Homo sapiens: one gene and its partner. The protein of the gene in region 2 purifies or fractionates together with the protein of the main gene of each other region. This does not show direct contact. Each region holds a gene or a part of one and is shown on either strand. Other genes may lie near its edges.

Region 1 (3,568 bases), on a different chromosome or scaffold from region 2:
CTTGAGGTCAGGAGTTTGAGACCAGCCTGGCCAACATGGTGAAATCCCGTTTCTACTAAAAATACAAAAATTAGCCGGGCATGGTGGCAGGCACCTGTAGTCCCAGCTACTTGGGAGGCTGAGGCAGGAGGATTGCTTGAACCCGGGAGGTGGAGGTTGCAGTGAGTCGAGATCACACCACTGCACTCCAGCCTGGGCAACAGAGTGAGACTCTTTCTAAAAAAAAACAAGAAAAAAAAAGAGCGAGTATTGCAACTACCAACTCCTTGGTCCTCAGCCAGGGCCTGACATAGGGCAGTTGCTTACTGCCAATGAATAAATGAATGAACAAATGAATGACTCCCTTTTCCTCTTTGGTCCCCAGGAAGCTCAGAGCTAGATTCACGGCTCCAGCTTCTGTTAGATTCCCCGTGCCCACCATGGGGCTGGAATCCTGTAGGTGCTCAATTATTGTGTGTTGACTGAGTGAGCAGGAGGGAGGGGCTCAGGCCCAGCTCACCCACCCTCGCCCCAGACCTCTCACCGTGACGCTGGAGTCATCCATGGCCTTGACAAAGGTGAGTGAGTCCATGGAAGCCGAGCGGATGGTGTCGGTGCGGCCCAGGTGAAACATGCGCAGGGAGGCACTTTCATAGGTGGCACATGCCTGTCCGTAGATCCTGGTGGGAAATGGGGCTAAGCACGCCCCTTGGAGGCGGGCACCCCCTCCCCTGCCCCCAGGTCTCCTCCCTCCTCCATGGGTGGGCCACAGAGGCGCACCTGTAGTAGGCCAGCTGCAAAGCCATCTGGATGAAGGCATCTGGGCTTAGCTTCTCCGACTTGGGGAAGTCTTTTCCAAAATGGTGGAACACCATCACGGTGATATCCAGGTCCTGGATCATGCTGGGGGTGTGGGAAGAGCAGGTGAGGAGCAGGCCCCGGCAGCCCCTGCCAACCCCACGGAGGGTCTGGGTGTCATGACAGAGCTGGCACAGGAGCCTCTCAAGCTCAAGGGCCTGGCCTCACCCATCCAGCACAGGGATGGCGGGGGCAGGCACTTACATGCTGAGGTTCTGCTTGGCCTTCTCGATGTCGCTCTTGATCTCGGGGGTGATGTTGAACCGCAGCTTCTTGGGCATGGGCAGGGGCACCAGGGGAGACCGCACAAGCTCGGGTTTCTTCCTGCACAGTAAACGGGGCCTCAGGCTCATGCTGGTGCCTCTAGAGCCTGGGTCCATTCTGGGACCAGGGTGGGGAGGATGGGTACCTGAAGCTGGAGGGGGCCAGCCCAGGGAGGTGTGAGTTTGTTCTGAAAACCACCCTCACTTCAGCTTTTTTTTCTTTTTTCTTTTTTTTTTTTTTTTAGATGGAGTCTTGCTCTGTTGCCCAGGCTGGAGTGCAGTGATGTGATCTCAGCTCACTGCAACCTTGGCCTCCCTGGTTCAAGCGATTCTCCTGCCTCAGCCTCCTGAGTAGCTGGGATTACAGATGCCCGCCACCTTGGCTAATTTTTTTCTTTTTCTTTTGAGACAGAGTCTTGCTCTGTCACCCAGGCTGGAGCAATGGAACGATCTCGGCTCACTGCAACCTCCACCTCCTGGGTTCAAGTGATTCTTGTGCCTTAGCCTCTTGAGTAGCTGGGATTACAGGCACCCACCACCACGCGTGGCTAACTTTTTTTTTTTTTTTTTTGAAACAGAGTCTCATTCTGTCACCCAGGCTAGAGTGCAATGGTGTGATCTCAGCTCACTGCAACCTCTGCCTCCCGGGTTCAAGCGATTCTCCTGCCTCAGCCTCCCAAGTAGCTGGGATTACAGGCACCCGCCATCATGCCTGGCTAATTTTTGTAGAGACAGGGTTTCACCATGTTGGCCAGGCTGGTCTTGAACTCCTGACCTCAGGTGATCCGCCTCCCAAAGTGCTGGGATTATAGGCATGAGCCACTGCACCTGGCCTAATTTTTTTTTTTTTTTTTTGAGACAGAGTCTTGCTCTGTCACCCAGGCTGGAGTGCAGTGGCACAGTCTCCGCTCAACGCAACCTCTGCCTCCTGGGTTCAAGCAATTCTCCTGCCTCAGCCTCCTGAGTAACTGGGATTATAGGCATGTGATACCACACCTGGGTAATTTTTTTTTTTTTTGTATTTTTAGTAGAGATGGCATTTCACCATGTTGGCCAGGCTGATCTCAAACTCCTGACCTCAATTGATCCTCCCACCTCAGCCTCCCAAAGTGTCAGGATTACAGGCGTGAGCCACCATATCTGGCTGGCTTCCTTGGAAAAAAACAGATTCCCAGGCACAAAGGAGAGTGATATTTCTCTATAAGCTGGTCTATCACCTGTGTGTCACCTGTCACTAGAAGCTGGGGAACTAGGCGAGAGATGTGACTGTACTCACGTGTACTCGATGACATAGTCCAGAAGGGTGACAATAGGGGGCCCCTCCGCTGCAGCATGCTCGTACACAAGCCCACAGGAGCCATCTTCTGCCACGATGAACTGTGGAAGGGAAGGGAGACCCCGGTCAGCCCCAGGGCCCTGGGGGGTGGCCCCTCACCCAACCACTCTTTGGTTGAGGCAAGGGCCTCTCTGAAGCCATCTCAAGGGGCTATGATGACTTATTACTGTTATTAACAATAGCTGACACTCACCAGGTGCCCTGGTGTGCTAAGCACATCCCACGCTCAGCGTGCCTGACTGAGTCCTTCAAACTACTCTACCGGTGAGGTTGACCATCACCCCATTTTACAGGTGTGGAGAGGGACTGTTGTGCCAGGATTGCACTGGTGACCCCGGATCCCAGGTTCTCTGTGAGGTGCTGAGGGGGTGTGCTGGGGGTGACAGCGGTTTCCAGGCCAGAGGCAGGACTGGTGATGACAGGCTGGCTGCCTGGTAATTACGGCAGCGTCCAGCCTGCTGGCTTCCTGCCTGCTTTACAAGCTAGGAGGCTGGGGACGCAGGGCCGGGGACGGGCAGGAAGTCCCGAGGCTGCAGAGGTCCTGTTCAGGTGTGTGTGAGTGGGCGAAGCCCTGCCGGGCCTCACCTGCAGCGTCTTGTCGAACCAGCGGTTGCCGCTGTTGAGCCTGCTGCCGCCCCCATGCAGCATCTGGCCTGCCACGTGGCTGCGGTACACGTCTTCTGAGACCCTGGGCATGGTTGCATCTAGGCACACGGTGAAGATGCTCTTCTGGATGGAGCGCACGGAATCCCGGTTCACCTTGTCTGCAGGTGGCATGGGGCGGGGAGACGCAAAATGGGGTCTCATGGTGTGGGAGAGATGGACCAGCCCCTCCGCAGCCTCCTGCCCTGGGCTCTTCTGACCCATTTGTACCTCTCTGGGATGAGGAGACCCCCCACCTCGCCGGCCCTCCAGGGCATTCACCAAGTGCAGGGTGTGGGTTCAGAGCTTCGAACTCAACAGGACCCTGCAGGCCCACAGCACTCCTCGAGGCAGGGCCCAACACCTGGCCCACTTTAGACACAGGAAACCGAAGCCCAGGGGTCACATGGGAGCTGGTGTGGCAGCCGGGGAACCCACACAGGTGGTCTGACTTTGGGGTCAATGCCCCTGAGCAAGACATGCTTTGGAG
Region 2 (3,818 bases):
TGCGCCACTGCACTCCAGCCTGGGTGACAAAGTGAGACCCTGTCTCAAAAAAAAAAAAAAAAGAAGGGACAAAAAACCCCTCCACAATTCTCTACAACCACCACCAACTGTCACTTTTCACAAGCTCCTTCTACTGCTAAATTTTGCTCCAAGCCGCCATCATCACTAGTGGCCAAATTCACTGATACTTAGTCATCCTGCAATTTCATCTTAGAGACTCTTTTCCCTACTAAGTTCTCTGTTCCTGCCAACTCCTCCTTTTCTGCTTTGATGCCCCTTCCCTTCCTCGGGTCTCCTTTCCAGCAAACCACCAGGTCATGATGATTTCTCCTCTGTACCATTTCCTTGGCATCCATCTCTCCCTTTCCATCCCGCAGTCATTACCCTAGTTCAGGTCCTTCTGTTTCTGCCATTATCTTCTAACTGACTGCAATGGCTTTCCCTCTCCAATACATTCAGAACACACAAGCAGCAGATTAAAATGGAGACACCATCTCACTTTCTTGTTAATCCTCTCTTACCCTACAGTCTTCCACTCTAACATTAAGGTATAGTAAGAGTTTCTTAAATTCCATATATTAGAAATGCTACTTCTGTCAATAGCTCTTCTATCTTGAATCTTGCAATCCTGCCTCACAATTTCAATGCTCCATGACGTTTCATATACTTTCAGAAAATTAAAGAAGTAGATACACAATTAAAAATAAACCCATATAAAAAAAATTAACCCATATAATGACCCGAAACAAAAATTCATTGGTCACTTTTGGAGGATAAACCTGTTACGGTAGTCTCCTCTTAGATAAGAGTTTCAGTTATCCAAGGTCAATCAAGGTCTAAAAATATTAAATAGAAAATTCCAGGCCGGGCGCGGTGGCTCACGCCTGTAATCCCAGCACTTTGGGAGGCCGAAGTGGGCGGACCACGAGGTCAGGAAATCGAGACCATCCTGGCTAACACGGTGAAACCCCGTCGCTACTAAAAAATACAAAAAAAATTAGCCTGGCGCGGTGGTGGGCGCCCCTAGTCCCAGCTACTCGGGAGGCTGAGGCAGGAGAATGGCGGGAACCCGGGAGGTGGAGTTTGCAGTGAGCAGAGATCGCGCCACTGCACTCCAGCCTGAGAGACACGGCGAGACTCTGTCTCAAAAAAAAAAAAAGAAAGAAAATTCCAGAAATAAACAATTCACAAACACACCGTTCTGCACAGCGTGATGAAATCTCACACTGGCCCACTCCATTCTGCTCAGGACATGAATCCTCCCTTTTGTCAGCAGGTCCACACCCTGCACACTAGCAACCCATTAGTCATCCACATTCTCTGCTTCTGACATCATGTCATGGCTTAGTGATCCAGGATCACCTGAAGCAGATGATTCTCCTTCAGACATGTAGTCTAAAACTACATCACAATGCTTTCTCATTCACCTCACTTCATCACGTAAGCATTTTATCATCTCACATCATCATAAAAAAAAAGGGGTGAGCACAGTGAAAAAGATATTTTGAGAGAAAGGCCACATTCACCTAACTTTTATTACAGTATATTGTTAAAATTGTTCTATTTTTAGTGATTGTTGTTAATTTCATACTCTGCCTAATTTATAAATTAAACCTTACCACAGAAATGTGTGTATAGGAAAAAGCATAGTACAGCACCGTGCAGGGTTCAGTACCATCTGTGGCTTCAGACATCCACTGAGGGTCTGGGAACATACCCCCATTGGATAAGCGGGGGACTATGGTATTTTAAAAACTGATAAATAAGGAGAACAAACCATTTAACTTTCCTTGCTGGGACAGGGCCTGTCAGGGTAATGAAATACTTGATGAGAAAGTTTCTCTTTGTAGATGTTTTCTAGCTGATAAATAAAGAAGGAGTAATTAAAATATTGTCATTTGTAAACTCCTAATGAGCCAGGTCATGATTGCCAATGGCCACTAATGTCTCCAATGTCTCCAGGCCACAATGTCTCCAGCAACACCACTATGAAGTACTTGTACCAAAAAATGTCTAACTTAAATCAGGCCTTGGATCTAACTACCATTTTATAGAGGAACATCTTCAACAAGCCCTGTGGAATATAATACCATCAGCAAAATCCACAAAATGCAAAGCTCCACAGAACCAATAGGCTAACCAGTTGCTTCAACAAATAATTTTCAAAAAAAAAAAAAAAGGGAAAGTAAACTTATAGATTAAAAAAAATAATAATATCCGGCTAGGCGCGGTGGCTCATGCCTGTAATCCCAGCACTTTGGGAGGCTGAGGTGGATCACTTGAGATCAGGAGTTGGAGACCAGCCTGGCCAACATGGTGAAACCCCGTCTCTACTAAAAATACAAAAATTAGCCGGGTGTCGTGGCATGCGCCTGTAATCTCAGCTACACAGGAGGCTGAGGCAGGAGAACTGCTTGAACCCAGGAGAAGAAGGTTGCAGTGAGCTGAGAATGCGCCACTGCACTCCATCCTGGGCAACAGAGACTCTGTCTCAAAAAAAACAAAATTAATATCCTTTTCCATCCATTCCAGCATAACTGGTACTAGAATTCCCACCTGTCTTAACCAATTAGACAAAATATGTGAAGCAACTATATCTTGGCACTGGATATTAGGCAATGCAGGACCATGAACCTTAAAAGAAAACAATACAACACATGAGCCCACACTGGCCTCAGCCACCCCCTAGAACTAACAGCAAAACACAAATAGATCCATCCTAACAGAGAATAAAAACCAAGCCTGAAAGAATCAAACAGATTTAACATATTGCCTGGCAGTTGTTTAAAACATATGTTAAAGAAAAACAACATAATCTCCACCAAGATATTATCTGTCATGCCACTTATAAAATTAAATATTACATGATTAGCCAGACATGGTGGTGTGCGCCTATAGTCCCAGCTACTTGGAAGGCTGAGGCAGGAGGATTGCTTGAGCCCAGGAGTTTGAGGTTGCAGTGAGCTATGATTGTACCACTGCACTCCAGCCTGGGTGACAGAACAAGGCCCTTCTCTTAAAAAAAAAAAAAAAAAAAAATTACATGACATGGGAAGCAGCAGGAAAACGTAATGTACAATAAAAAAAAAAACAGCAGTCAACAAAACAGAAACAGACTCTGAGGAGACCCAATAATAAAATTAACAGATTTTTAAAAAGCTGTTATAAATATGTATGTTCAAGTACTTAAAGGAAAAGATGAACATAATGAGTGAACAGGTGGGAAATCTCAACAAGAAATGGAAATTATAATGCAAATTCTAGAACTGATATGTACAACGTAAGAAGAAAAAAATGGCTCCCTATCTTTTAGAGATACACGGTAAAAAATCTACAGATGAAATAATATATCTGGAATGTGCTTCAAAATAATCCACCTGTGGGGAGGCAAAGTAACTGGGAGTATAGATGTAACAATAGTGGCCATAGGTTGATGACTATTGTAACTAGATGATGGCTACGTGGGAGTTCATTGTACTATTCTCTCTACTTTTGCATTATGTTTAACTGTCTCCATGTTCAAAAGCTAAAAAAGAAAATTCAGTCTCCGTAAAAACAAGCTGTTTCAGCTTAAAACTAGATGTTGTTCAAATGAAGTTCTGCATACACATAGTACTTCTCCCATCTTTGCCAAGTTCCCTAAGATATATAGCATCCACACTGATTTTTATGGATTTCTAATGCTTGAGGAAAGCGGGTATTTCATAGAAACTATAAATATTGGCCAGGCGCAGTGGCTCACACCTGTAATCCCAGCACTTTGGGAGGCCAAGGCAGGCAGATCACGAGGTCAGGAGATCGAGACCAGCCTGGCTAAC

The links.
Region 1: the proteins of METAP1D (region 2) and CRAT purify together in Homo sapiens (affinity purification with mass spectrometry; one large-scale study listed by BioGRID and IntAct). This does not show direct contact.

The regions. Positions count from the first base shown.
Region 1 is NC_000009.12:129,097,490-129,101,057, forward strand, and holds part of CRAT (carnitine O-acetyltransferase), read right to left. Parts: intron 3,201-3,568; coding exon 3,022-3,200; intron 2,478-3,021; coding exon 2,377-2,477; intron 1,162-2,376; coding exon 1,042-1,161; intron 883-1,041; coding exon 760-882; intron 660-759; coding exon 524-659; intron 1-523. UniProt on the Homo sapiens protein: Catalyzes the reversible transfer of acyl groups from carnitine to coenzyme A (CoA) and regulates the acyl-CoA/CoA ratio. Also plays a crucial role in the transport of fatty acids for beta-oxidation.
Region 2 is NC_000002.12:172,006,387-172,010,204, reverse strand, and holds part of METAP1D (methionine aminopeptidase 1D, mitochondrial isoform 1 precursor), read right to left. Parts: intron 1-3,818. UniProt on the Homo sapiens protein: Removes the N-terminal methionine from nascent proteins. The N-terminal methionine is often cleaved when the second residue in the primary sequence is small and uncharged (Met-Ala-, Cys, Gly, Pro, Ser, Thr, or Val).